Linked DNA regions of Homo sapiens. The protein of the gene in region 5 purifies or fractionates together with the protein of the main gene of each other region. This does not show direct contact. Each region holds a gene or a part of one and is shown on either strand. Other genes may lie near its edges.

Evidence for each region.
Region 1: the proteins of CD83 (region 5) and CERK purify together in Homo sapiens (affinity purification with mass spectrometry; 2 studies listed by BioGRID and IntAct, with this or other methods). This does not show direct contact.
Region 2: the proteins of CD83 (region 5) and BTAF1 purify together in Homo sapiens (affinity purification with mass spectrometry; 2 studies listed by BioGRID and IntAct, with this or other methods). This does not show direct contact.
Region 3: the proteins of CD83 (region 5) and NDFIP1 purify together in Homo sapiens (affinity purification with mass spectrometry; 2 studies listed by BioGRID and IntAct, with this or other methods). This does not show direct contact.
Region 4: the proteins of CD83 (region 5) and SLC7A2 purify together in Homo sapiens (affinity purification with mass spectrometry; 2 studies listed by BioGRID and IntAct, with this or other methods). This does not show direct contact.
Region 6: the proteins of CD83 (region 5) and FIRRM purify together in Homo sapiens (affinity purification with mass spectrometry; 2 studies listed by BioGRID and IntAct, with this or other methods). This does not show direct contact.
Region 7: the proteins of CD83 (region 5) and THADA purify together in Homo sapiens (affinity purification with mass spectrometry; 2 studies listed by BioGRID and IntAct, with this or other methods). This does not show direct contact.

The regions. Positions count from the first base shown.
Region 1 is NC_000022.11:46,731,753-46,735,252, forward strand, and holds part of CERK (ceramide kinase), read right to left. Parts: exon of another isoform or gene 2,860-3,500; intron 1-2,859. UniProt on the Homo sapiens protein: Catalyzes specifically the phosphorylation of ceramide to form ceramide 1-phosphate.
Region 2 is NC_000010.11:91,989,770-91,993,269, reverse strand, and holds part of BTAF1 (TATA-binding protein-associated factor 172), read right to left. Parts: intron 1,152-3,500; coding exon 961-1,151; intron 1-960. UniProt on the Homo sapiens protein: Regulates transcription in association with TATA binding protein (TBP). Removes TBP from the TATA box in an ATP-dependent manner.
Region 3 is NC_000005.10:142,115,279-142,118,778, reverse strand, and holds part of NDFIP1 (NEDD4 family-interacting protein 1), read right to left. Parts: intron 1-3,500. UniProt on the Homo sapiens protein: Activates HECT domain-containing E3 ubiquitin-protein ligases, including NEDD4 and ITCH, and consequently modulates the stability of their targets. As a result, controls many cellular processes.
Region 4 is NC_000008.11:17,552,588-17,556,087, reverse strand, and holds part of SLC7A2 (cationic amino acid transporter 2), read right to left. Parts: intron 1,529-3,500; coding exon 1,389-1,528; intron 1,143-1,388; coding exon of another isoform or gene 1,006-1,142; intron 1-1,005. UniProt on the Homo sapiens protein: Functions as a permease involved in the transport of the cationic amino acids (L-arginine, L-lysine, L-ornithine and L-homoarginine); the affinity for its substrates differs between isoforms created by alternative splicing.
Region 5 is NC_000006.12:14,131,272-14,134,771, reverse strand, and holds part of CD83 (CD83 antigen isoform a precursor), read right to left. Parts: intron 3,253-3,500; coding exon 3,024-3,252; intron 1,124-3,023; coding exon 1,017-1,123; intron 1-1,016. UniProt on the Homo sapiens protein: Transmembrane glycoprotein predominantly found on the surface of many immune cells including dendritic cells or lymphocytes that plays various roles in immune response regulation.
Region 6 is NC_000001.11:169,826,040-169,829,539, reverse strand, and holds part of FIRRM (FIGNL1-interacting regulator of recombination and mitosis), read right to left. Parts: intron 3,448-3,500; exon of another isoform or gene 3,325-3,447; intron 2,490-3,324; coding exon 2,341-2,489; intron 1,830-2,340; coding exon 1,700-1,829; intron 278-1,699; coding exon 91-277; intron 1-90. UniProt on the Homo sapiens protein: Regulates PLK1 kinase activity at kinetochores and promotes faithful chromosome segregation in prometaphase by bridging kinase and phosphatase activities.
Region 7 is NC_000002.12:43,593,239-43,597,385, forward strand, and holds the start of THADA (tRNA (32-2'-O)-methyltransferase regulator THADA), read right to left. Parts: upstream 2,801-4,147; 5' UTR 2,693-2,800; exon of another isoform or gene 2,409-2,692; intron 1-2,408. UniProt on the Homo sapiens protein: Together with methyltransferase FTSJ1, methylates the 2'-O-ribose of nucleotides at position 32 of the anticodon loop of substrate tRNAs.

The DNA.
Region 1 (3,500 bases), on a different chromosome or scaffold from region 5:
GGGGGAGGTCAGGAATGCAAGCCAGGCCACAGGCACGCATGGGCGAGCAGTGCCTGGAAGAACTTTGTAGCAGGGCAGGGTGTCTAAACATCAATGGGGCACACAGGCTGGCTGTCAGGACGGGCCAACGGCACTGGAGAAGGGATTAGTGACCCTCAGGGTGCTCTCTAAACTTCCAATCCCCATCATCCAGGGTTCAGCCGCCGGGGTGCTCCCTAAAGAAATTCAAAAGGCAGCAGGAGGGGTCGGGAGGGGAAGACCGGGGCCAGCTGGAGGCAGAAGTCATCTGACCCAGTCTGTGGCAAAAAGGGGACCAAGGTCAGCGAGAAAGGAGAGAAGAGGTATGGGATCCGGACAGCCGAATCGAGAACCCAGCAGACGTGTGGGATCCGGACAGCCGAATCGAGAACCCAGCAGGCGGTGAGGGTGGGCCACTGGCCTAGGAGAGAGGCCGAGTAGCTGGAGCTTGTATGCGGGTGACAGGCTGGCTGTCTCCAGGACAGAGGAGAACTCGTGCCTGGAAGTCCACGCTGGGCTAATCGCTGAAGCCATTAAGTTGAGATGCATCCTGGACCAGCTACAGGTTCCTGAGATAACCCTCAAAAGGCAGGACTCAGCTGCATTTCTCATAGAAAACGCTGTTATGCAAAAATCTAGACTGTTAGAGAAGAAAAATAAATTGGGTGGGGGGGACGGGAAGTAAAACACATTAGGAGTTTCTTAAACACACAGAAAGTGTATCTTCTCGAGTATGAAAGTTTCTTAAATACTGGTGGTTTAATTTCTCTGGGATAGATAATCAAAAATGGAATTGTTGGGTCAAAGGATATCACTTTTTTTTTTTTTTTTTACAGTTTGAAAACACTGCCAGATTACTTTCCAAAAACACCCTAGCAGTTCCCACTTCCCATTCACCGGGTCTGCCAGCCCAGAAGCGTCCTGAAACTTCCCCAGCACAGAGCTGTGCTTTCGCCCTTCCCCATCCCTTGCTGGTTGAGAGCAGCATCTCATCATTGCCTTGGGTCAGTATCTACTCAGACGCTCAGCATCCACTTCCGAATGTTTTCTTCCGTGAATCGCCTACTTATATCCATTGCCATTTGTCTAATGGATTGTCTGCCTTTTTTCCTATCAATTTTTATGTAAGTTTAAAATGTTCAAAAAATGTTAACCTGGCCAGGCGCGGTGGCTCACGCCTGTAATCCCAGCACTTAAGGAGGCCAAAGAGGGAGGATCACGAGGTCAGGAGATTGAGACCATCCTGGCTAACACAGTGAAACCCCATCTCTTCTAAAAATACAAAAAATTAGCCGGGTGCAATGGTGGGTGCCTGTAGTCCCAGCTACTCGGGAGGCTGAGGCAGGTGAATGGTGTGAACCCGGGAGGCGGAGCTTGCAGTGAGCTGAGATCACGCCACTGCACTCCAGCCCTGGGCGACAGAGTGGGACTCTGTCTCAAAAAAAAAAAAAAAAAAAAAATTAACCCTTTCTCTATCCTATTTGTTGCAAATATCACCCCCATCATTTTTTATTTTTATTTTATTATTATTATTATTATTTGAGATGGAGTCTCGCCGTGTTGCCCAGGCTGGAGTGCAGTGGTGCAATCACAGCTCACTGCAACCTCCGCCTCCCAGGTTCAAGAGATTCTCGTGCCTCAGCCTCCTGAGAGGCTGGGATTATAGGCGCACGCCAACATGCCTGGCTAATTTTTGTATTTTTAGTAGAGACAGGGTTTCACCATGTTGGGCAGGCTGGTCACGACCTCCTGACATCAAGTGATCCACCCGCCTCGGCCTCCCAAAGTGCTGGGATTACAGGTGTGAGCCACCACGCCCGGCCCTTATCTTTTTTTTTAAATTTATGATATCTTACAAAAGAAATTTTAAAATTATTTCGTCAAATAATCTAGCTTTTTCTTTATTCTTTCTGGATTCCATCTTGGTTAGGAGAGCCTTTTCCCATTCCAATATTATAAACTGTCCTCTATTTTCTTGTAAGAATTTACAGCCAGGTGCAGTGGCTAACGCCTGTAATCCCAACACTTTGGGAGGCCGAGGCAGGCAGATCATCTGAGGTCAGGAGTTCGAGACTAGCCTGGCCAACATGGTGAAACCCTGTCTCTACTAAAAATACAAAAATTAGCTGGTGGCAGGTGCCCATAATCCCAGCTACTCAGGAGGCTAAGGCAGGAGAATCACTTGAACCCGGGAGGTGGAGGTTGCAGTGAGCCGAGACCTTGCCACTTCACTCCAGCCTGGGAAACAGAGGAAGACTCCAAAAATATAATAAAATATGTTATATATACATACATACATATATATATATATATATATACATTTTCCTATAATCCAGCTTTCTACTCTTAAATATGCACCCAAGAGGAGCAAAAGCATAGCCCCTAAAGGGTCAGGGTGTCTTTATCCACATAGTCAAGGTGAATGGACTGCAAACTGTCCAGAAGCCCATCAGCAGGTGAACGGATACACTAGTGCACCCACACAATGCAATATGACTTAGTAACCAGAAAGAAGGAACTGCTGACATGATGAATCTTAAAAAAAACAAAATGAGATAAAGCAGCCGGGCACAAAGACGTGCACATGGCATGATTCCATTTACATGAGATAAAGCAGCCGGGCACAAAGACGTGCACATGGCATGATTCCATTTACATGAGATAAAGCAGCCGGGCACAAAGACGTGCACATGGCATGATTCCATTTACATGAAACTCTATTAGCATCGTGCCTGTCCCTGGTGAGAAAACAGCCCAGGGCCCAGGAGAAGGTGCTGGGCTGCTGCGATCCGGGTGATGTTTACACAGGTGCACACAATTATCAAAATTTAACCAACTATGTGCCTTAAAATGTCTGAGTTTTATTGCATGCAATTTAGACCTTGATAAAATCGATTTTTAAAAATCATGTCTTAGGAGAGGAATTAGTAGCGTGGAAAACACTCTGCAGTATGTTTTCTCAGCTTTTCTTTCATGCATATTTACATATACACAAATACCAAATATTAATCACGTCTAAGTCGAAGAGTGACTTTTTGTGTATGCTTTTCTGTGTTTTCTCGATATTATTAAATCAACATGACTTACTTTTGTAAGCAGGAAAAACATTTTTTTAAAGTATCTGTGGCATGCCTATGTTTTGCCAGGCACTTTGCAGGGTGTGCTGAGGACACGCTTTATAAACACAGTACTGACCTGCCCAACGAGTTCACCACCAGCCTGGGACATCCCAAGTGGGGTTGGTGGAAGGAAGGGGAGGATCCTCCCACAAAGGTAGAGCCTGGGCAGTAGTCCCCTCACCCCCCAACACACACACACACACACACACACTCTTCCCATTCCCAACTCTAAAGGAATAAATGCAGGGTTTGTCTAAGTGTGTTTTGCGACAGTCAGGGGAAATAACCCAGATATCAACTCAGTGTTTCCAGTTCAACGAGCATGACCCACTTCAAGTTCCTGTTTTCGTCCTGCCCTACTTC
Region 2 (3,500 bases), on a different chromosome or scaffold from region 5:
TAATTCTTATTCAGCAGTAATTACGGTCCATAAATCTGTCCCCCCAAAAAGATATTTATATTTTTAAAATTATGTTTAATTGGAGGAATAACTATGCAAACTAGAGATATAAATATCAAAATCACAGTAAAATTTTTATTACAATTATTATAGGGAAATATTGTCAATGAAAAAGACTTTACAGAATGTTTTAAGGGAAATATAGATAAGCTGTTGATTTTAAAAAGAAACTTAAAAGGGGTTTATATTTTACAGAAACATGTCTTTTAGTATTGATGGTTTACTGCTGAACTGAGGTACATTCCTATGCCTTGCATTCCAAAGAACTAACTAGAGCATTCATTCTATTGCTAATAATGTGACTGTCAGATTTTCAAAACAAAACACTTTTTAAAAACCACTGCTTGTTAAGACTGTACGGTGTAACAGGTGGACCAATGGGAGATAATGGAAAGCCTGAATAGACCCTCACACATATGAAGCCATTAACAGAGGTGCCATTATAAATCAGAGAGGAAAGGATTCAATAGTGGGATAACTGGCTGTTCATATGAAAAATAAATTTAGAACCCTACCTCACACTAAGCATTTAATAAATATCAAATTGACTAAAAAAGTCAGGTGGGTTGCAATTATATGACATTTGTGCATTGAAAGGACAGAGAAAAGTTAGCTTTCACTATTATTGAGCACCTTCTCTACAGTCACTGCTATAGGACTGAATTAGTTTACAAGGCTGTCTTGCCTAGGAAGATAAAGTTAAGCTGGTAAAAATTACAAGAGACATGAGATATTTGAAGTTTGCCGTTTTTCTGGATCATATTGTTGGAGTACTCCAAAAATTAATCCCATTTCTTTACTTAAAAACAACTCTGGAAGCTAATACAACTTAGTTCTCAATTTGTAAGTCAGATATTTGTTTAAAAATCAAAGCATTAAAAAAAAAAAAAAACTACTTACCTCATCAAGTTCAACAAGAATATTTCCACTACTTCCTGCAGGAAGATCTGCTATTTGAGCTTTTACTGCTTTGGGGGTAGGACCTCGCCTACTTGTGATAGCAAAGGCAGCTTTCTGGTGCCTGTAGAGTGTAATTATACCTCTGTGCTTGGTGACAGTATGGTGCATTCCATCTTTTTCTGAGGTGGATCCTAATAAGAAAAAAGTTAAACAACCTTTTAATCATAATATTGGTGATACCAAATGTTTTCAGCTCCATAAGAGATAAAACATTTTTAAACTATGTCTTTTAGGCCTCAACTTTTATAGGCCAATGACATTTTCCTTAGACAATGAAATGGCAATAAAATAGTCTATTTGCATAGGATTTATACCTAATACAATCCAGGTTGCAGAGCCATCTGAACAATGAGAAACAGCACATGAAAAAATTATTGTGACTTCAGTTAATGTGTTTGTGTGTGTATATATGTGTGTATATATATATATATATATATATATATATATATATACACACACACACACACACACACATATATATAATTTTTTTTTTCTGAGACAGGGTCTTTCTCTGTTGCCCAGGCTGGAGTGCAGTACCACCGTCTCAGCTCACTGCAACCTCCACCTCCTGGGCTCAAGAGATCCAATCCTCCCACCTCAGCCTCCTGAGGAGTTAGGACTACAGGCACACACCACCACACCCAGCTAATTTTATATTTTTTGAAGAGATAGGGTTTCACCATGTTGCCCAGGCTGGTCTCAAACTCCTGAGCTCATTCCATCTGCCCGCCTCGGCCTCCCAAAATGCTGGGATTATAGGCATGAGCCACCATGCCCAGCCTATTAATTTTTTGTTGTTATTTTTGAGATGGAGTCTCACTCTGCCACCTAGGCTGGGGTGCAGTGGTGCAATCTTGGCTTACTGCAACCTCCACTTCCCAGGTTCAAGGGGACTCTCATGCCTCAGCCTCCTGAGTAGCTAGGATTACAGACGCACGCCACCACGTCCGGATAATTTATATATATATATATATATATTTATATTTATATTTATATATTTTTTTGAGACGGAGTCTCGCCCTGTCGCCCAGGCTGGAGTGCAGCAGTGCGATCTCGGCTCACTGCAAGCTCAGCCTCCCAGGTTCACGCCAGTCTCCTGCCTCAGCCTCCTGAGTAGCTGGGACTACAGGTGCCTGCCACCATGCCCGGCTGATTTTTTGTATTTTTAGTACAGACGGGGTTTCACCATGCTAGTCAGGATGGTCTCGAACTTCTGACCTCGTGATCCACCCGCCTCGGCCTCCCAAAGTGCTGGGATTACAGGCGTGAGCCACTGCACCCAGCCTAATTTTTATATATTTTTTTAGTAGAGATGGGGTTTCACCATGTTGACCAGCCTGGTCTTGAACTCCTGGCCTCAAGTTATCTGCTCACCTCGACCTCCTAAAGTGCTGGGATTACAGGCATGAGCCACTGCCTGGTCCCTGGCCTATTAATTAATTAATTATTATTTTTTGAGACGGAGTTTCACTCTTGTTGCCCAGGCTGGAATACAATGGCGCGATCTCAGCTCACCGCAACCTCCGCCTCCCAGGTTGAGGCCATTCTCTTGCCTCAGCCTCCCGAGTAGCTGGGATACAGGCATGCACCACCATGCCCAGCTAATTATATATTTTTAGTTGAGATGGGATTTCTCCATTTTGGTCAGGCTGGTCTTGAACTCCCGACCTCAGGTGATCCGCCTGCCTCGGCCTCCCAAAGTGCTGGGATTACAGGCGTGAGCCGCCGTGCCTGGCCTGGCCTATTACTTTTTAAAAAATTATTGTGCCTAAGCATAACGAGAAATATTAAAAAATATCTCAAGCAAGTTCTCTTTAAAAGCAGAGTCACCATGAATTAAAAAAAAAAAATTGGTCACTGCAAAATGATGCTGCCTTATATAGCAATGGACCAGGGGGGTAAGAGGGGGGAGAATGACCCCAATGTATTTTTAAGATGTTAATATTCAAAATGTCCACCTTTCTTCTTCTAGTTCATAAACATATTTTTCAAGATCTATGCTGCACCAAAGCTGTAAGTCTACTACATTTCAAATAATTTGTTTTCCCAAAATCTTGTTAACAATCACACATACAAAAAGCACATAGGACTGAGTCATATGAATAAAACACTGGTCTTTAAGACCTGCCTACAGAGGGCAGTTCTCATTTTCCATACAAATTCTCCAAGTGAAAACAAAAAAGTTGGTTAAGTATTATTTACTAAAAGTACTAAAAGTTCACTAATCTCATAAAACATGCACTAAATTAGGGAAACGAGAGATTTTATAATGACTTTTTCAGTCAATAGGGTTGCTCCTTTGGTTAAGGAAAAAAAATTCATTAAATAACATTTGATACAATTACCTTTTCTAGCTTGATACAGTAAACCATATAATGATGGTTTTGAAGGCAAAGGTAAGGGTGAACACCTGTCTTACAGATTTCAGTCACCTTATATCAGCTATCAGATCTTCCATGAATGGCTTTTTTGAACTTACA
Region 3 (3,500 bases), on a different chromosome or scaffold from region 5:
CTATACAGATATAAATACTAAACAAATTATCAGAGCAGAGACAAATGCCCCATGCAGGAAATTCCAAATAATTCATGTCAATACTTGGCCCTCAGCGAGGTGTTACATAACTCCCCACTCCTTATGTGTGGACCATGCATAGTGACTTCCTTCCCAAGAGTAAGTATGGAAAGTGGGGTAAAACGTATCTTTACAGAAGAGAAACCTGAGAAACACTACCTCAGCCAGGTGATCAAGGTCAATGTCAACAATGATAAGTCATGTTGAAAGTGTGCATTCTTGATATGATGTGATGAGAACAGCACTTTACCTGTGGTCTTCCCCCAAATCCACAGCCCCAGTCTAATCATGAGAAAAACATCAAACAAACCCCAATTGAGGGACATTCTACAAAGACCTGACCAATACTCCTCAAAACTGTCAAGCTCATCAAAAACAAGGAAAGTTTGAGAAACTCACAGCCAAGAAGAGCCTAAGGAGACAGGACGACTAAATGTAACATTACCACATTATATCATCCTGGATCCTGGATGGGATCCTGGAACAGAAAAAGGACATTAGGTAAAAACTTAGAAAATCTGAACAAAGTACAGACTTTAATTGATAACAATGTACTAATATTGGTTCAATAATTGTGAAAACCGTACCATACTGATATAAGATGCTAATAGGGAAAGCTGGGCATAGGGCATATGGAAACTCTCTACTGTCTTCTCAGTGTTTCTGAAAAATTAAAAATGTTTCAGCTGGGTGTGCTGGCGTGTGCCTGTGGTCCCAGCTACTTGGGAGGTCAGTGGGGGAATGATCGCTTGAGCCAAGGAGTTTGACGCCAGCCTGGGTAGCAACATAGCAGGAACCCATCTTAGGGGGAAAAAAGTTCCAAAAAGTAAAGTCTATTTGAAAGTACAGATTTATTTAAAAAACATTTAAAGCCAAGGAAAGGTTAAGAAGAAAGCCTGAAGATGGAGGGTTGCAGTGAGCCGAGACTATGTGGCTGCACTCCAGCCTGGGTGCAGAGTGAGGCCCTGTCTCAAAAAAAAAAAAAAAAAAGCCTGTAGAACACACACCAAACTTGAGGAGCAGTTACAGCTCTGCAAAGAGATAGGGAGGAAAGGGAAATCAAGTTTTTCTTTAGAAAGTTACTGTTTGAATCTAGCACATGAAGAATGTATTACTATTTAATACAAAATGCTTAATTTTAAATATCACATTTAAGCATCGAATGATAAAATGAAATCGGCCAGGCGCAGTGGCTCACACCTGTAATCCCAGCACTTTGGGAGATGGAGGCGGGTGGATCACGAGGTCAAGAGATCGAGACCATCTTGGCCAACATGGTGAAACCCCCTCTGCTAAAAATAGAAAAAATTAGCTGGGCGTGATAGCGGGCGCCTGTAGTCCCAGCTACTCAGGAGACTGAGGCAGGAGAATCACTTGAGCCCAGGAGGCGGAGGTTGCAGTGAGCTGAGATTTCGCCACTGCACTCCAGCCTGGCGACAGAGTGAGACTCCGTCTCAAAAAAAAAAAAAAAGCAAAAAAAGAAAATGAAATCATTATTAAACAGGCACCACTCCCTAAACCCTTATATCTCTATTCATAAATTGTCCAGTCTCCAGATAGACCTCCAAATTGTATTCAAGCCTTTGATTATGGTAAGTACTAATTAATATTGCTGAGATAAACTAATTTAAAAGACAAAAACAGAAAAATGGTCAAAGATTATGCTAAATTGCTCGGGGAGGGGGATAAGAAATATATTATACATATGGGCCGGGCACGGTGGCTCATGCCTGTAATCCCAGCACTTTGGGAGGCAGAGATGGGCAGATCACTTAAGGCCAGGAGTTCGAGACCAGCCTGGGCAACGTGGTGAAACCCCATCTCTACTAAAAATACAAAAATTAGCCAGGCGTGGTGGCATGCACCTGTAACACCAGCTACTTGGGAAGCTGAGGCACGAGAATCTCTTGAACCCAGGAGGCGGAGATTGCAGTGAGCAGAGCTCTCACCACTGCACTACAGCCTAGGTGACAGAACCAGACCCTGTCTCAAAAATAAATAAATAAATAAATAAAAAAGAAGAGGAGAGAAGAGAAAAGAAAAATACATATGAAGGTAGCCTGGGCATGGTGGCTCACACCTGTAATCTCTGTAAGCCAAGGTGGGTAGATCATTTGAAGTCAGGAGTTCGAGACTAGCCTGGCCAACATGGTGAAACCCCACCTCTACTAAAAATACAAAAATTAGCCGGGCCTGCTGGCGGGCACCTGTAGTCCCAGCTACTCCAGAGGCTGAGGCAGGAGAATGGCTTCAAACTGGAAGGCAGGGGTTGCAGTGTGCCAAGATTGCGCCACTGCACTCCAGCCTGGGGAACAGAGCAAGACTCTGTTGAAAGAAAGAAAGAAAGAGAGAGAGAGAGAGAGAGAAAGAAGGAAGGAAGGAAGGAAGGAAGGAAATAAATAAATAAATATACATATGAAGGGAACTGCATTAATAAGAAAATATTTCACTAGGAATGCTCTTAAACTTGATCAGTGCTAGTATTTAGGACATTTAATATAAATTATGTTATTCAGAAAAATCATGAGTAAGCCTTATTGTAACAGCAGGATGTGCTAAGTGATATCAAGTTACACTTGCTTTACTACCACTCTTGGTCAAGTTAACAAGACATATCATACAGTCATCCCTCAGTATCCACTGGGAATTGGTTCCAGGACTCCCCACAGATACCAAAATGGGAGGATGCACAAGCCTCTGACATAAAATGGTATAGTATTTACACATAACCTACCTCATGTACTTTAAATCATCTTTACTTATAACACTTAATACAATGTAAATGCTATGTAAAATAGCTGTTATAGTGTATATTTTACTTGCACTATTATTTATTATTGTATGGTTATTTTCCCCTATTTTCAATCTGCAGTTGGTTGAATCTGCGAATGTAGAACCTGTGGATACCCAGAGCCTACTCTAACTCATACCCCCACCTAGCCAACCACTAGAAGCAATTACCACTGGAAAGTATGTCAAGCCCAAAAAATTTCATACATGATGTTTGCCAGTTGCCTAGCTTATTGGCAACAATGACTTGAAAAAAAGATAAACCATCATGCCAATTTTCAGTATGAATGGAACAGAAGTATTAAAGTTGCTTTATCTAAATTGTCCATTATTATAAGAATATAGGCCGGGCGCAGTGGCTCACACCTGTAATCCCAGCACTTTGGGAGACCGAGGCGGGCAGATCACTTGAGGTCAGGAGTTCAAGACCAGCCTGGCCAACATGGTGAAACCCCATCTCTACGAAAAATACAAAAAATTAGCTGGGCGTGGTGGTGGGCACCTGTAATCCCAGCTACTCAGGAGGCTGAGGCAGGAGAATCGCTTGAACCTGGGAGGCGGAGGTTGCAGTGAGCCGAGATCGCGCCATTGCCTTCCAGCCTGAGCAAGAAGAAAGACACTCCATCTCAAAACAAACAAACAAAAAAGAA
Region 4 (3,500 bases), on a different chromosome or scaffold from region 5:
TTATAAGAAAATGTTTACAAAGTGAAAGTGTTTAAACAAATACATTCTGACCCTGAAAAAAATTCCATTTTACACAGAATGAAGCACTAGCTTTTTCTAAGCTAATTTCCTAACAATTCAGAGCCTCAACGAAATTGTCATTTTGGTTTGAATTTATAGTGCCAAGATTGTTCATTATTTTATGTATAAAGCTTGCAAAAGTCTTTCTTTTGCTTCCTGTAACAGTACCTTTAAGGCCATTGTCTGGATCTAGAATCTCACTGAAATTTTCTGCATGAGATAAGGATCTGGCCAAAGGTATTTTACATGGATATTAAGATGTGCCAAAAGACTAGCAATCTGGATTTTCTGAACATAATTTAAGTACCAAAACTGTTGAAAGGAAAAATAGATTCCTGATGGAGTTGGAGAGGATATGTATGTTCCTAACTGTTAGATGGCTGCGATGGCCCTGGAAGCAAGGATGCCCACCATACTGAGGATGGCGATCACAAGGGCCAAGCATAAATCATCTTGAATATTTCTTATTAATAATGGGTAAAGCTTAATTTACCCTATGGTCCCTTAGCAATATTCGACGTATATCCTAGACCAAAAAATTGAATCATTATTTTAAAATTAATATTTCAAAAATTAAGCAAGAATTCCTTAATCAGAAGTTTATGTATCAATAATATAATTTTGTGTGCTAGTTCATCAGAAAAGCAATTCATAATATTTAGTGAAGAGCTATTATAACCCTTTGTACATTTGTTAGAGCCCAAAAGATTAAAATAACAAAACAGTAAAAAAAAAATCCCAAAGGGTCAATTAAGAATGAACTTCATTATACCACCGCCACCACAATTTTCACATGTTAATCCCAATGCTTGTATACTAATTTTTATCAGTGATTTTGTTTTTTTTAACTTACATGCACAGCATGCAGACCCTCTTTATAAGTCCATGCATGCGAATTAAATGTTCCAGTCTAATGCTCAAGAAACCTAAGTTTGTAAAGCTTACCAGAAATGACCCCTGCAGTCAACGTGGCAGCAACTGGTGACTGCCTCTTACTCACTCTGGCAAGAAATCTAAACAGTAAGCCATCCCGGGCCATGGCAAACAGAATTCGGGGTAAAGGAAACATAGAGCCCAGAAGACTAGAACAGAAAAATTCAAAATCCACACATGAGTTATTTTAAGGATTATTCTAGACAGGTATAGACAGGTAAAGACTGGACACACGAAAATGCAGAACCAAAAAATTCAAAATAGGAAACACTCACAAAAAAGTGACTGAACTTCTTGGAAATCAAAAAAGAAAACCACCTAGCTTTGTATTTTTAATGCAGAGTCCTTGATGAAAAAGATCCCCCGTTTCTGAAGAAAAGTCAACTCTCTCTCACCTGCCACTGCACCCGATGATAAAGTAGCAATTATTGGTGTCTTCGTTTTGGAATTGATTTGAGCTAGACATTTGAAAAGCAACCCATCCTCCGCCATAGCATAGATTACACGAGGCATTGGGAAAATGGATCCAAGAAGACTGAATAAAAAGCAAACACATGCAGTATGGCAAACATTCATGCAAGATTACATCCCCGAACGGAAATAAAATAATTGTATAATATTCAGCATGACAGTTGTAATTATGAAGTCATATTATTTATATTAATAATTATGTCATTATTTTTTAAATGCACTATGATAGGGCATTTAAAAAATTTGCTAATATTTACCATTGTGCTATTCATTATTCTGTTACAGATAAGTACGCAGCAAAATTATCAGACTAAAAACAATATTGCAAGTAATTTGTGTGTACCCACAATTATTACCAAATTAAAACTAAATAATTAAGACTTAACCAAACCAATATTATTAAGACATTTTTAGCAGCAACAACTTGGAAAATAAAATTACTAATTTGATATGTAATTAAAGAAAAGACTAAGTAATTTTATTTCATAAGCAATAGTTGCAACCTTTATTCAATAATGATATATTTTTTGCATTTATTGTACCAGTATTTTTTCTCATACACCCTGATCTTGGATCAAGTTAGTAATAATCCCCAGCATCATAAGATAATCAAGGTAGAAGAAGGGAAAGAAGATCAATTTACGTAAATGTAGTATACAGATGTGGCCACAGTGAAAAGTTAGCAGCTGAAGTTTAGTAAGACAGTTTTTGCTTGAGATGTTCGGAAGTACTTTTGTTTACTAGCTGCACCATTTCACACATTACTTAGTTGTGAAAAATAACCATGTAAGAGAAAACAAAAAAAGTATTTTATTTAAAAATCCTTCTTATTGATTTATTTTATTTGCGACAGGGACTCACTCTGTCACCCAGGATGGAGTGCAGTAGTACGATCATAGCTCACTGTGCCCTCAAACTCCTGGGCTCAAGCGATCCTCCCACCTCAGTCTTTCAAGTAACTGGGACTGGGACTAAAGGCGCATGCCACCATGCTCAGCTAATTTCTTGAATTTTTTGTGGAGACCGAGCCTTGCTACGTTGCCCAGGCTGGTCTTGAACTCTTTGCCGTAAGTGATCCTCCCGCCTCGGTGTCCCAAAGTGCTGGGACTACAAGAGTGAACCACTGTGCCTGGCCCTTCTTTATCTTTAATAAGGCTCTGTTGAGCTTGGCCATAGATGAATCTTTGTCCATCCCTTCTAAGGCCATGGTAGCACGGTATCTTCACAGTTCAGACTTTTGAAATTACTTGAAGCTATTCAAAATAAACCTCAAGGCCGGGTGTGGTGGCTCATGCCTGTAATCCCAACACTTTGGGAGGCTGAGGTGAGAGGATAGCTTGAGCCCAGGAGTTCAAGACCAGCCTCGGGAACTTAGCGAGACCTCCTCTCTATAGAAAATAAAAAATTAACCAGGTATGGTGTTACGTGCCTGTATCCTAGCTACTCAGGAGGCTGAACTGGGGAGATCACTTGAACCCAGGAGTTCGAGCCTCAGTGAACTATGATTATGCTCTGCACTTCAGCCTGCTTGACAGAGCAAGACCCTGTCTCAAATAAATAAATAAACCTCAACACTAGCAGATGGCTGAGAAACCAAGAGTGTCTAATTGCTACTCAATATTGTCTTAACTAGAAAATAAAAGGGAGTTTGAAGGGAAAAAATAAAGCTAGGCTGGTGAATTACACTAAAAGACTTCTTTTTCTAGTTTCAGACTTTCAGAACCTTATTTTCAGTTAAAAAATTACTAATCTGCCAAAAAGATTAATTTTCTCTTTGCAAGACTCTTCTACCATGTGGCATGATAAAAAACTAGAACGAAATATCTGACTCATATGTTAATTGAAATAAGGGTAGCTGAGGAAACCTGGGAAATGAGTTCTAAAGTATTCAAACAAGCAGCTACTGAAAATCTGAAAACTTGGGATTCAATGACCCTTTTCCCTTCACATATTTATATGAATTTCCACCATTTATTTAAGAATGATAATTTCTATTTCTAGACCAACTTCACTCTGATTGGTGCTTCCCTTCACAT
Region 5 (3,500 bases):
TACGCAAATAACCCTAACATCCTAACTGTAAGCTCCTTGAGGGCAGGAACAATGTCTTACACCTTTTTATGCCCTGTACAGTGCCTAGCATAATGCCTTGAACATAGTAGGTGCTCACTGGAGTCTCTGATTGACTGGTATCTAAAATAGAAACCAGAGAGATGAGTGCACAGCCAGAGAGGCAAGTAAGTGAATAGAGGGACACAGTGAGTGGCAAGAACCAGTCCTGGGGTAGCTCCTGGGTGAAGTCTGTCCTGGCCCCTAGGTAGCCAGCCCTGCCTGGTGGATGGAGACAAAGGGGGCAGATCACTTCCTAGAGGGGTCAGACACACATGTGGCCCTACTCTCCCACAACCATCATCAACACAGGTGAGCAGCCATGCAGAAAGAATCTCTGAGGGCTTTGAGCCAGAACCTGCAACCAACAGCTCATGGGCATGTCTAGGGTGCCTGAGCACCGGCCAGCCATCCTGCACCCCGGAAGCCTCCCACTGTGCCTCACTGCTCTGGCTTCTTGGGATTAATTCTTAAGGCATGGGCAGAAATACCAAAAATAGAAGGGGAGAACCCCCACGAGAAATAGTTTGAAGGCAGCCAAAGGAGGCTGATCTATCCCCTGGCATCCCTGGGGCAGTGGGGCCCACTCCCTCACCCACAGGAAGAGCGGGGCCTCTGCTCTGGGATGGGGGACCCTCAGCGCTGCAACTTCTAGCACTGCGCCTACAGGGCCTCTGCTCTTGCATAGAACCCCTTGTCATTTCCCAAACGTCCTTCCTATATCTTACTTTGTTTTTTTTTTCCACAATGCTCTAAACGTAGCCACTAGACAAAAGCTGGAAATATTTCAGGGAGCTTCCTGTAATGATTCTCCCAGTCTAGGGGCCTCAAAAAGTCCAGGGTTCAAAGAATAATCTCTCTCACCATTATTAAATGATTCGCACTATCTGCAAGAGATACTTGGATTGGTGCCCTGGGTAATCTTTTAATAAGAGAAGATGTTTTAAGAAGATACTTACACAAGTGAAAATGATGAGTGTTAAGTAGAAAATAACCAGAGCCAGCAGCAGGACAATCTCCGCTCTGTATTTCTTAAAAGTCTCTTCTTTACGCTGTGCAGGGCATCCTTTAAAAAAGTAAGCGACATGTGAAGCCATTTTAACAGGATTTTTCTACCATGAAAAAAAGCTAAGAATGCTTTGTTCCTTGGTCCTGGAGTCCTGCTTGTCTCCTCTTCCCACCATCAGGATGAACGACAGTAACAGTGACAGTGAAGGTGACAGCAGCAGCCGGCGCGCACTGTCGCTCTGTGTCTGGCTGCATGCGACTCTCACATGGCATCTTTCCGAATCTTCAGAACAGGCCTGAGTAGTCCCATTTTACAGATGAAAGAGCCGAGGCTCAGAGAGGGTCAAGGACCAAGGACCAAGGCGGCTGAGCCAGACAGCTGGTCCAGGCTTATCCTGCGGCCTGTCTGCCTGCACTTCGGATGTCAAGCCTTTCCTGGCTTATTTTGTCCTCCTACCAGATGAACCACCACTTGTTAATCCAGAAATTATCTTAACTTCATCACTGTTGGGTAGACTGTGGTGTGTCCTCACCTCAGGAGGTTTCAGGGACTATGAAAGGAAGCAGGGGAGCTGCCCTGATATTGCCAAATACGTCAACAGATTTTTCTAGAATCATTCAAGCTCTTTCGGCAAGGGTGCCAGCATGGTTGGGTGGAAGAACAACTCCCTCAGGGCTGTTAAAGGGTTTGGTGCAGCACGAAGGGAGGGTAAGAGCAGCGAGGCCTTTAGCCCAGGGACAGACATGAAGGGAGGTGCCTCTCCCCACTCAGGTGCAACACCCAATGTGCTGTTTGGGGAAGCAAGTTGAGCTTTGGCTATAGTGTGCTTGCAAACAGAATCTGCTTGATGCCCCAGGCAGGAGCAGGTGGAGTGCAAGTGAGCGGAGGGGGTTCTGCCATTGGAGCCAATGGCTAGATCTCCAGAGATGTCAACCCCTGAAAATGGATTCGACATTTTGTGCAGCAGTCGAGGGATGGATTCTCACAGCCGTGGGTAATGAGAGCCATTGTCCTCATGGTCCCTAATATGTATTGGTCATTCAGTCTATCCCGGGCACTACACTCAGCATTTTAACGCAACTTCTCATTTAACCTTCACAACAAGCCTATGTTGTAGACGTTACTTCCATTTTAGAGATTAGAGAACTGAGGCTTAGTGTCAATCCGTGATTTGCTCAAGGTCACACACTAACAAAAGGCAGAGTTAATATTTGAGCCAGATCTAAGTGACTGTAGACTCTGACCCCTTAAGTTGTAGGCAATATCGCCATGGAAGAGGAAAAGGAGAGAAAATCAGCTATTCTCTTCATTTTCTCTCCACTCCCTGCAGGACATGCCTGCCCTCTCCACTCTCCTCTGCAAGGTTCCTCTCATTCAGGTGAATATTCATTGAGGGCCTACTATGTGCCCAGATACATCAGAGAAGAAAACGCAGAGGTTCTTGTTCTCTTGGGGAGACAGACAGTAAATCAATCCATACATAACATGCCAGTTGTACTAAGTACCAGGAAACAAAGAAACCAGGATGAAGGGCTGGAGATCCAGGAGGGCCTAAGGGAGGTGTGTGCATACAACACTAAGCAAAAAGCACACACTGCCCCCTTAAACAGGGACTGTACTCTTGCAGGTGTAATAATATTACCCGAAGTCCAATTCCTTTCAGATCCCTGACAGAAGGAGAAATCAACGGTTGTACGGAATCAGGGGCTCTGTGACCACATTTTTATCATTTCCACCCTCAGCCCCTAACAAGTGTTGGGCAAAAGTCAAACAAAAGGCATCATTTAAGCCACAGAAAGAGAAAATGGTGACATGCTTGCAGCGGATTTCCACTTTCAGCCACAGATGTGATCCAAAGCTCTAGAGCTACACTCCAAAAGAGAGGAACGATTTTAGGACCTAAAGGAAGTACACATGCATTGTTCAAGAAGAAAACAAGTGCAGCAGGTCACCTCACCTGTCACTCTCAAGATCACCTTGCCACTTAGGTTTCTCTGCCCATCCGGGTCCTGCAGAGTGCACCTGTATGTCCCCGAGTTGCAGCTGGTAGTGTTTCGGATCTTCAGGGAATAGGGCCTTTCATTGGGGGCGTCGAAAGAACCATTTTGCCCCTTCTGATGATAGTGCTGTCCCCTGAGGTGGTCTTCCTGGGGTGTCTCCATCCTCTCTTCACCACCCTCCAATAACTGTGAAGAAGGAATCAGAGCGCATCACGGTCCACTGCAAGCACTCCAACTCGACACCAATGTTTCCATTTTGTTTTCAGAAGATCCAGCCTCAACTTATGTTTGTAAAACAAGACGTGATGCTTTTGTGTGTGTGTGACCTCTGGGGGAGGAAAGATCTATGAAAATTCCCAAGGCTACATCTTCGGAATATATCAGGACTACATCTCATGATTCTATCATAAGTATCCCAATTTCCACCCTATATT
Region 6 (3,500 bases), on a different chromosome or scaffold from region 5:
CCCACATTTTCTTCTGTATATGAATCACAATTTCAATGAAGAGAAAGCAAAAGTGTAACCTTAGCTTAGCACAGTAAGTAATATGCTTACCAGTTCAGCAAACAGTGAGGGATGAAAGGAAGTAATAAATGTACACAGATGAACACAAACATGCTGATACAAGGTGACAGCCACCTCAGCTTTCCCCTTACTCTTTAATCCCTGTAAATGAACAGGTAGAGAGAGTTCACCAGAACACTGCTCAAAACTGTAGAAAACGGCTTTGAGTAGAGATATCCTGCAGGGAAATTGAGAACATTGAACCCAACATTAATAACATTTACTAATTAGCAATTATAATAATAATATGTAACATGGAAGGTTGTTTAAGCAGAAAATGTTTCAAGAGGTATAATCAGCAATAGTTTCCAACACGTGTGAATATGTACACATAAAAGGAAAATATATTCACTGTCAAAGAAATTCCTTAAAGGAGAATTTTCCTGGACATTTTTTGCATCATTTACCAACTGTTTATCTTGGTACTGAGTTACACAAAGTCAAAGTTCCTCAAGGAACTTGAAACTTAAATAGCTAAATTAGATATTATATGGAAAAACAGAAAATAAGTAGCAGACGAGGAGTCATTTTAAGATTAAAATGGTTGAAGAAACTTAGAGGATTTAAACAACAAATTAAAAATAGTCAAGTTATGGGCAGGGTGTAGTGGCTCACGCCTGTAATCCCAGCATTTTGGGAGGCCGAGGCGGGAAGATCACTTGAGCCCAGGAGTTGGAAGACCTGGGCAACATAGTGAGACCTTATCCCTAGAAAAAATTTAAAAATTAGCCAGGACAGCTGGCACACACCATTAGTCCCAGTTATTTAGGAGGCTAAGGTAGGAGAATCACTTGAGCCCAGGAAGTTGAGGCTGCAGTGACCCATGGTCATGCCACTGCACTCCAGCCTGGGTGACAGAGCAAGACCCTGCTCCAAACAAAAAAAAAACAAAACAAAACTGTTCAAATTGTAAGTACGTAAAGAAGACAAAAGCACGAGTAAAAGCACACAAATAAGGGGGTGACAGAAGCAAGGAATATGTGTTGAAAATGAATACAAGAATGAGGAGAAAAAGCAGAAGATGACAATAGTATGGGACAGGCTTTAAATCCAAAGCTGAGAAGTTCTAACATTATGTTTCAGTTTTTGAGCAGAATAGGAAGCTCAGAGCCAGGTTTAGGGAGACTAACCTCATCGTGGTACGCAGAATGGGATAAAGGAAGAGGTGAAAAATTAGAGCACAGAGTAATCCAGGAAGAAAGAAACTAGAGCCTGGACTACGGTGTTGGCAAGGAAGATGATTAAAGGTTAAATTTGCCAGGATATACCTTACAGTGTCTAGTGTTCTATTTATCAGAGCTCGTTTTTAAATGTTTCTACTTATAGCTACTCTATTACAATCAATGTTTATAATGCTGACCATTAAGCAATACTGAACAAAATTAAATATTAAAATATTTTTAGCATCTAATATAGGTTTATATATTTTATATTTATCTGCTTTTATAAAGTAGCAATATATATGTGTGTCTACACAATAACTATTAACATAAATATCTGATTTAAAAAAAAAACACACAAACTTAATTTCAAGACCATTCCAAACAACAGGGCCTTCTTAACCATTGGTAATATGACTGGATAAAAACATGTTTGCTACCTGGTTGTCGTTTCTGAGACCTGGCTGTCTGTGCACCACAGGGTTTGCACTTCCTTAGGCTGAGATGGCAGCTTATCCATGACAACAACCAGAAGAAGACATTGTGGAAACTGCAGTTCACATGGCAGGTCTTACATGTAATAAAAACACATTAATTCAGCAGAAATCTGATTAATACGTAAAGGAATAATTTTTTTTTGTTTGAGTCAGAGTCTCACTCTGTCACCCAGCCTGGAGTGCAGTGGTGTAATCTCAGCTCACTGCAACCTCCACCGTCTGGGTTCAAGCGATTCTCCTGTCTCAGCCTCCCGAGTAGCTGGGACTATAGGTACATGCCACCACACCCAGCTAATTTTTGTATTTTTAGTAGAGATGGCGTTTCACCATATTGGTCAGGCTGGTCTTGAACTCCTGACCTCAGGTGATCTGCCCACCTCGGCCTCCCAAAGTGCTGGGATTACAGGTGTGATTCACTGTGCCCAGCCAGGTATAATTTTTAAATAAGAAATATGTTTCAAGAAAAGAAAGTAAAAGAAACTTAATAAAAATTTCTTAATTGTAAAAAAGAATGGCTAGGGGAAATCAGTGTCTCTAACATGTCATAATAGATGATTTATCATTAAATCTATTTTGAAGCTTACCTAATTTACTGTCCAAAACCACCTGCATGAAAGGCTGAAATGTGAGCAGCTGACTGATAAGTGGATCCAGTGTCACTAGGAAAGCACCTGCTATTTCCTCTTGGTGTGCTTTAGAAATCCTGGTAGCATAAAGGCTTGGAGGAAACTTGCTGGGAAGGGAGAGAAAAAAAACTCATTCATTAATAGCTATCTTCTAATTTTAGGTAGAGTAAGTACTATAAACTGATGTTCTGGTAGTAAAAATATATTAAAAACTAAGTTTTTAAAAATAAGTGTGCATTTTATAAAACAAAATTCAAAGTACTGAATTGATACCAGAATTGGATCAAGATCTCTAAACTAAACATAGCCATAATTCTATAAAATGAGAAGTTGATAATCTTAGAGAAATCTTTGTTGCTTTGAGGCACTGATATCATTTTCACAATATCCTTAAAAATACTATAAAAATCTAAATCTTAAATCAAAAGTAAAAATATATATTGAAAAGACTATGTCTGATAAATTCTAGCTTATTTCTATTAAAAGTTGTTTTTGGGCGGAGCGTGGTGGCTCATGCCTGTAATCCCAGCACTTTGGGAGGTTGAGGCGGGTGGATCACCTGAGGTCAGGAGTTCAAGACCAGCCTTGCCAACATGGTGAAACCCCGTCTCTACTAAAAATACAAAAATTAGCTGGTTGTGGTGGTGCATGCCTGTAATCCCAGCTACTCGGGAGGCTGAGGCAGGAGAATCACTTGAAACCAGAAGGCAGAGGTTGCTGTGAGCCAAGACTGCGCCACTGCACTCCAGCCTGGGCGGCAGAGTGAAACTCTATCTCAGAAAAAAAAAAAAAAAATGCCGGGTGTGGTGGCTCACGCCTGTAATCCCAGCACTTTGGGAGGCCGAGGCAAGCGAGGTTGGGAGTTCAAGACCAGCCTGACAAACATGGAGAAACCTCGTCTCTACTAAAAATACAAAATTAGCCAAGCATGGTGGCACATGCCTGTAATCCCAGCTACTTGGGAGGCGGAGTCAGGAGAATTGCTTGAACCTGGGAGGTGGAGGTTGCAGTGAGCCGAGATTTCGCCATTGCACTCCAGCCTAGACAGCAAGAGCGAAACTCCATCTCAAAAAAGAAAAAAAAAGTTGTTTTAAAATAGGCAGAATGCTGAATTTACT
Region 7 (4,147 bases), on a different chromosome or scaffold from region 5:
AAACAGAAATAAATACAAAGGGCTGCATTTAGTTTAGGGGAAAAAAACACAGAAAGAGAGGCTGGAGAGGCAAAACGTGGTTTGAAACAGCTCAACAGCCCAAGATGACTGCCAAAAACCACAGAAGTCAGCCATATCAGAGTGCATGATTTTATTCAAACAGGCCAGGTGACATGTAGAGCATTAGGTACAGCGCTGGCGGCCATACTCTAAGGAGCCATAACAAACAATGGAACTATTTCTGAAGGACCTAGAGAGCACCTCCTTCAGAGAACAGCTCAGTTAACCAAAGGTGTTTGGCCTGGAGAAAAAGTCAACAGAACAAGAGCCTTAAAACAGCTGCTAGACTGTTTTGGAGAAAAAGGGAATAGATTTATTTGTCTACTACAGACTTTTTTTTTTTTTTTTTTTTTGAGACGGAGTCTTGCTCCTTCGCCCATGCTGGAGTGCAGTGGCGCGATCTGCGCTCACTGCAAGCTCAGCCTCCTGGGTTCAGGCCATTCTCCTGCCTCAGCCTCCCGAGTAGCTGGGACTACAGGCGCCCGCCACCACGCCCGGCTAATTTTTTCTATTTTTAGTAGAGACGGGGTTTCATCATGTTAGCCAGGATGGTCTCGATCTCCTGACCTCGTGATCCACCCACCTCGGCCCCCCAAAGTGCTGGGATTACAGGCGTGAGCCACCGCGCCCAGCCTTAGACTTCTTGTCTTGCTATTAGATTAGTAAAAGTCAGTACAAGCTACAGGGAAACAGATTCCAGATCAATACAAAGGAAAAGCTCTATGGTCCCACTAAGGACTGGGCTACCTTTTAAACAAAGAAATTTTCCAACACCAGGAATATTCAAAGAGAAGATGACTGAATATTTTCTCTTGGACTCCTGAAACAGCTCCCTAACTGGTCTCCTGACTTCTACACTTACCTCCAAAGAGCCCATTCTGTTTACAATCATCAAAGCAATCTCTTTAAAAAAAACTCTCATCAAATTGAATTACTTACTCTCTTCCTTAAAACTTTCCAAGGGTTTCTAAATACACTTAGAATAAAATTCAAACTTGAGGCCAGGAGTGGGGGCTCGTGCCTGTAATCCCAGCACTTTGGGAGGCCGAGGCGGGTGGATCTCCTGAAGTCAGGAGTTCAAGACCAGCCTGGCCAACATGGTGAAACCCCGTCTGCACTAACTAAAAATACAAAAATTAGCCGGGTGTGGTGGCAGGCGCCTATAACCCCAGCTACTCCGGAGGCTGAGGCAGGAGAATGGCTTGAACCCAGGAGGCAGAGGTTGCAGTGAGCCGAGATCGTGCCACTGCACTCCAGCCTGGGAGACAAGAGCGAAACTCCATCTCAAATAAATAAATAAATAAATAAATAAATAAATACTTGAGATTTTGCCCTTCAAGGCCCTAAATAATCTGACCCTGCCTTCCTCCACTCTTCATCTCAAACCAATCTCCTCTTCACCATCTCAAGAGCTTTGTACTTCCTGATGCTCTTATTCCCACCTAAGAGGCTTTACACTTCTCAGTATCTCTGCCCCTTAATGTTCATTCCACATCTTTGCAAGACTGACTCCTTCTCACCATTCATGTTTCTGCTGCAACATTACCTTCTAAAAGCCTTCCATGACCACTCTATCTAAAATCTCACCAATACAACACACGTAGACACCATTTCCGTTAATTTTCTTCATAGCACTTACTAGTACCAGAAATTACCCTAACTTGTAAATTTGTATATTGTCTGTCTCACCTAGTAGCAAACTGAATGAAGGCAGCAACTTTAATCTATTTTGTTCATGTTTCAAGTCTCAATTTCCAAACCAGTGCCTGGCACATAGTAGGTGTTTAACAAACACTTCACGAATAAACAAATTAATTAACAAACATTTGTCAGAGATGTTCTAGAAGGGATATATGTCTTTAAGGGCAGGAAGGTGGACTATCTGGTACCTAAAATGCATTCTACATCTAAGTGACATTCTACATCTTAAGAACCTATGGTCTGTTTGGGAAGTAAGAAATCCATACAGTAATGGCAGGTGAGCAACCACTTAACCAAAAATGGACGCAGCTAGGAAAGTGTCGACAACAGAATAATTTGTAAAGGGATAGTCAGATCTAGAGGAATAGAGGCACGCTTCCTAAGAAAGTGACCATCGTACAAAGCCAGAAGAGACTGGGAAACCTAACTAGGGAGACTATTCTCTGGTGAAAGGTAAGCAAGTTTGCAGGAGGATTTGCTCTTGCAATTCTGAGGGCTACACAAAAGCAGACTCGGTAATTATGCCTGCTCAAATGATGCCTAAACGTGTGTCCTGAAGAACCAGGGTCCCCAAGGGGGTAAATCCCGTGTCTACCGCAAGGCCAGAAGGTGCCCAGTAAATTACACTCCTCCTAGGTCCCACTTACTGCTTCCCTTTAGAACGCTGCTTCACTCTACACCTTCCTGGCTGACTCCCACAAACATTCTCTGGGCGATTTCTGAACCACGTGGAGTCGAGGAATGACAGTGGGAGAAAGTGGTTAAAGTGCTGTCTCCATGGAGACCTTAGCGACCGGAAATCAGTTTCACAGCCGCCGAATCCTGGCGATACCAAAGGATGGGAATTGGTGTGGCTCGCCAGGCAGCCCTAGCAAAACTGGCCGAGCCGAGCTACCGCGGGTCTGGCAGGCAGGACACCTGGGAGCCAAACCTCGTGCACGTCGGCGTCTGAGAAGAGTCGCAGGCGCCTGGTCCAGTCCCGGAAGCAGGTCTCCTTCTACGGCGTCTCCGAGGCTCGCAGCGCGGTCCACGGTCGACTACCGGGTCAGGGCAAAGGGAGGGAGAGAGGGGTAACCTGGAGGAGTCATCGCGAGAATTGACCAAACGCAGCTCCTCCAATCAGGAGTTCGAGGAGGTCGTGACGTCACCGGGGTGGCCGGTAGCAATCCGGTTTAGTTAACCAGCCACTGTACCGTCAGCGCCGCGCGTTCCTCATGGCGTTAGGGCTGACGGGCCTTGTTGCTGAGGGGCCTTCATTCAACGGTCTCTTGTTGAATGAAAAGACCTCATTCTCTTCACATGCTTGGACGCCTGGGAAGCGCTTTTCTCCCAATCCAGACCTTCCACCTTTCTCCCACTCTGTTGGCCCAGTGCAGAGTCTAGGAGAAAACTACGTCTGGGACTCGGGAACGAGTCCAGGGAGTTTAGAGCCTGCGAGATGGGGCAGGGGTTTGGGCGGCGACTGAACGGAAGCCACGAGAAGGATTCGGACTAAAATGAGTAGTGCTGAACCAACGTGTGCCAAAGCGCATATATTCATTCAATAGATAATGAACTCTACTGTCAGAGCGTCGCCAAGCGCTAGCCTTGAAAGCTATCCCCTACTGAGGATACATGTATTACGCAGCACATACAAATTGTCAGATGGTTCAGTCCTTGAAAAATAAATACAATAACGGGGTGTCACTGGGAGCTGCGACAGTGGGCAAGATCAGGAAAGACCTGATGCTATTATCAGGAGTATTAATTTGGAAAATAGAGACATTTCAGTTCTCTAAACGTTAATGACTTAAGTTTTTAATAATTATTTTCTGAATTTTTTATATCAGCTTGCCTTGGTTTTCTTTATAGCTTTACCACATAATGTATGTATCACTATCTTGTTTCGTTCAATTTTGAAGCTTTTGGAATTGCGTATGTATTCTCCAGCAATTTGCTTCTTTCAGCATTGCTTTTCATATTCACCTACAGGTGGCTGTAGTGCTCTTCGCCCAGGCTGGAGTGCAGTGGCGCGATCTCGGCTCACTGCAAACTCTGCCTCCCGGGTTCAAGTGATTCTCCTGCCTCAGCCTCCTAAGTAACCGGGATTACAGGCGCGCGCCACCACGCTCAGCTAATTTTTGTATTTTTTAGTGGAGACGGGGTTTCACCATGTTGCTCATGCTGGTCTTGAACTCCTGACCTCGTGATTCGCCCGCCTCGGTCTCCAAAAGTGCTGGGATTACAGGCGTGAGCCATGGCGCCCGGACCGTAATTTTCCATTGTTTAATATACTTCATTATGTATCCATCCTGCTGCCTCTTAACATGTGCATTATTTCCAGTTTTTGTTCTAAACATTGCTGCTGTGAACTATGTTGTGCATGTCAGCTGGTGAGTGTGTGCAG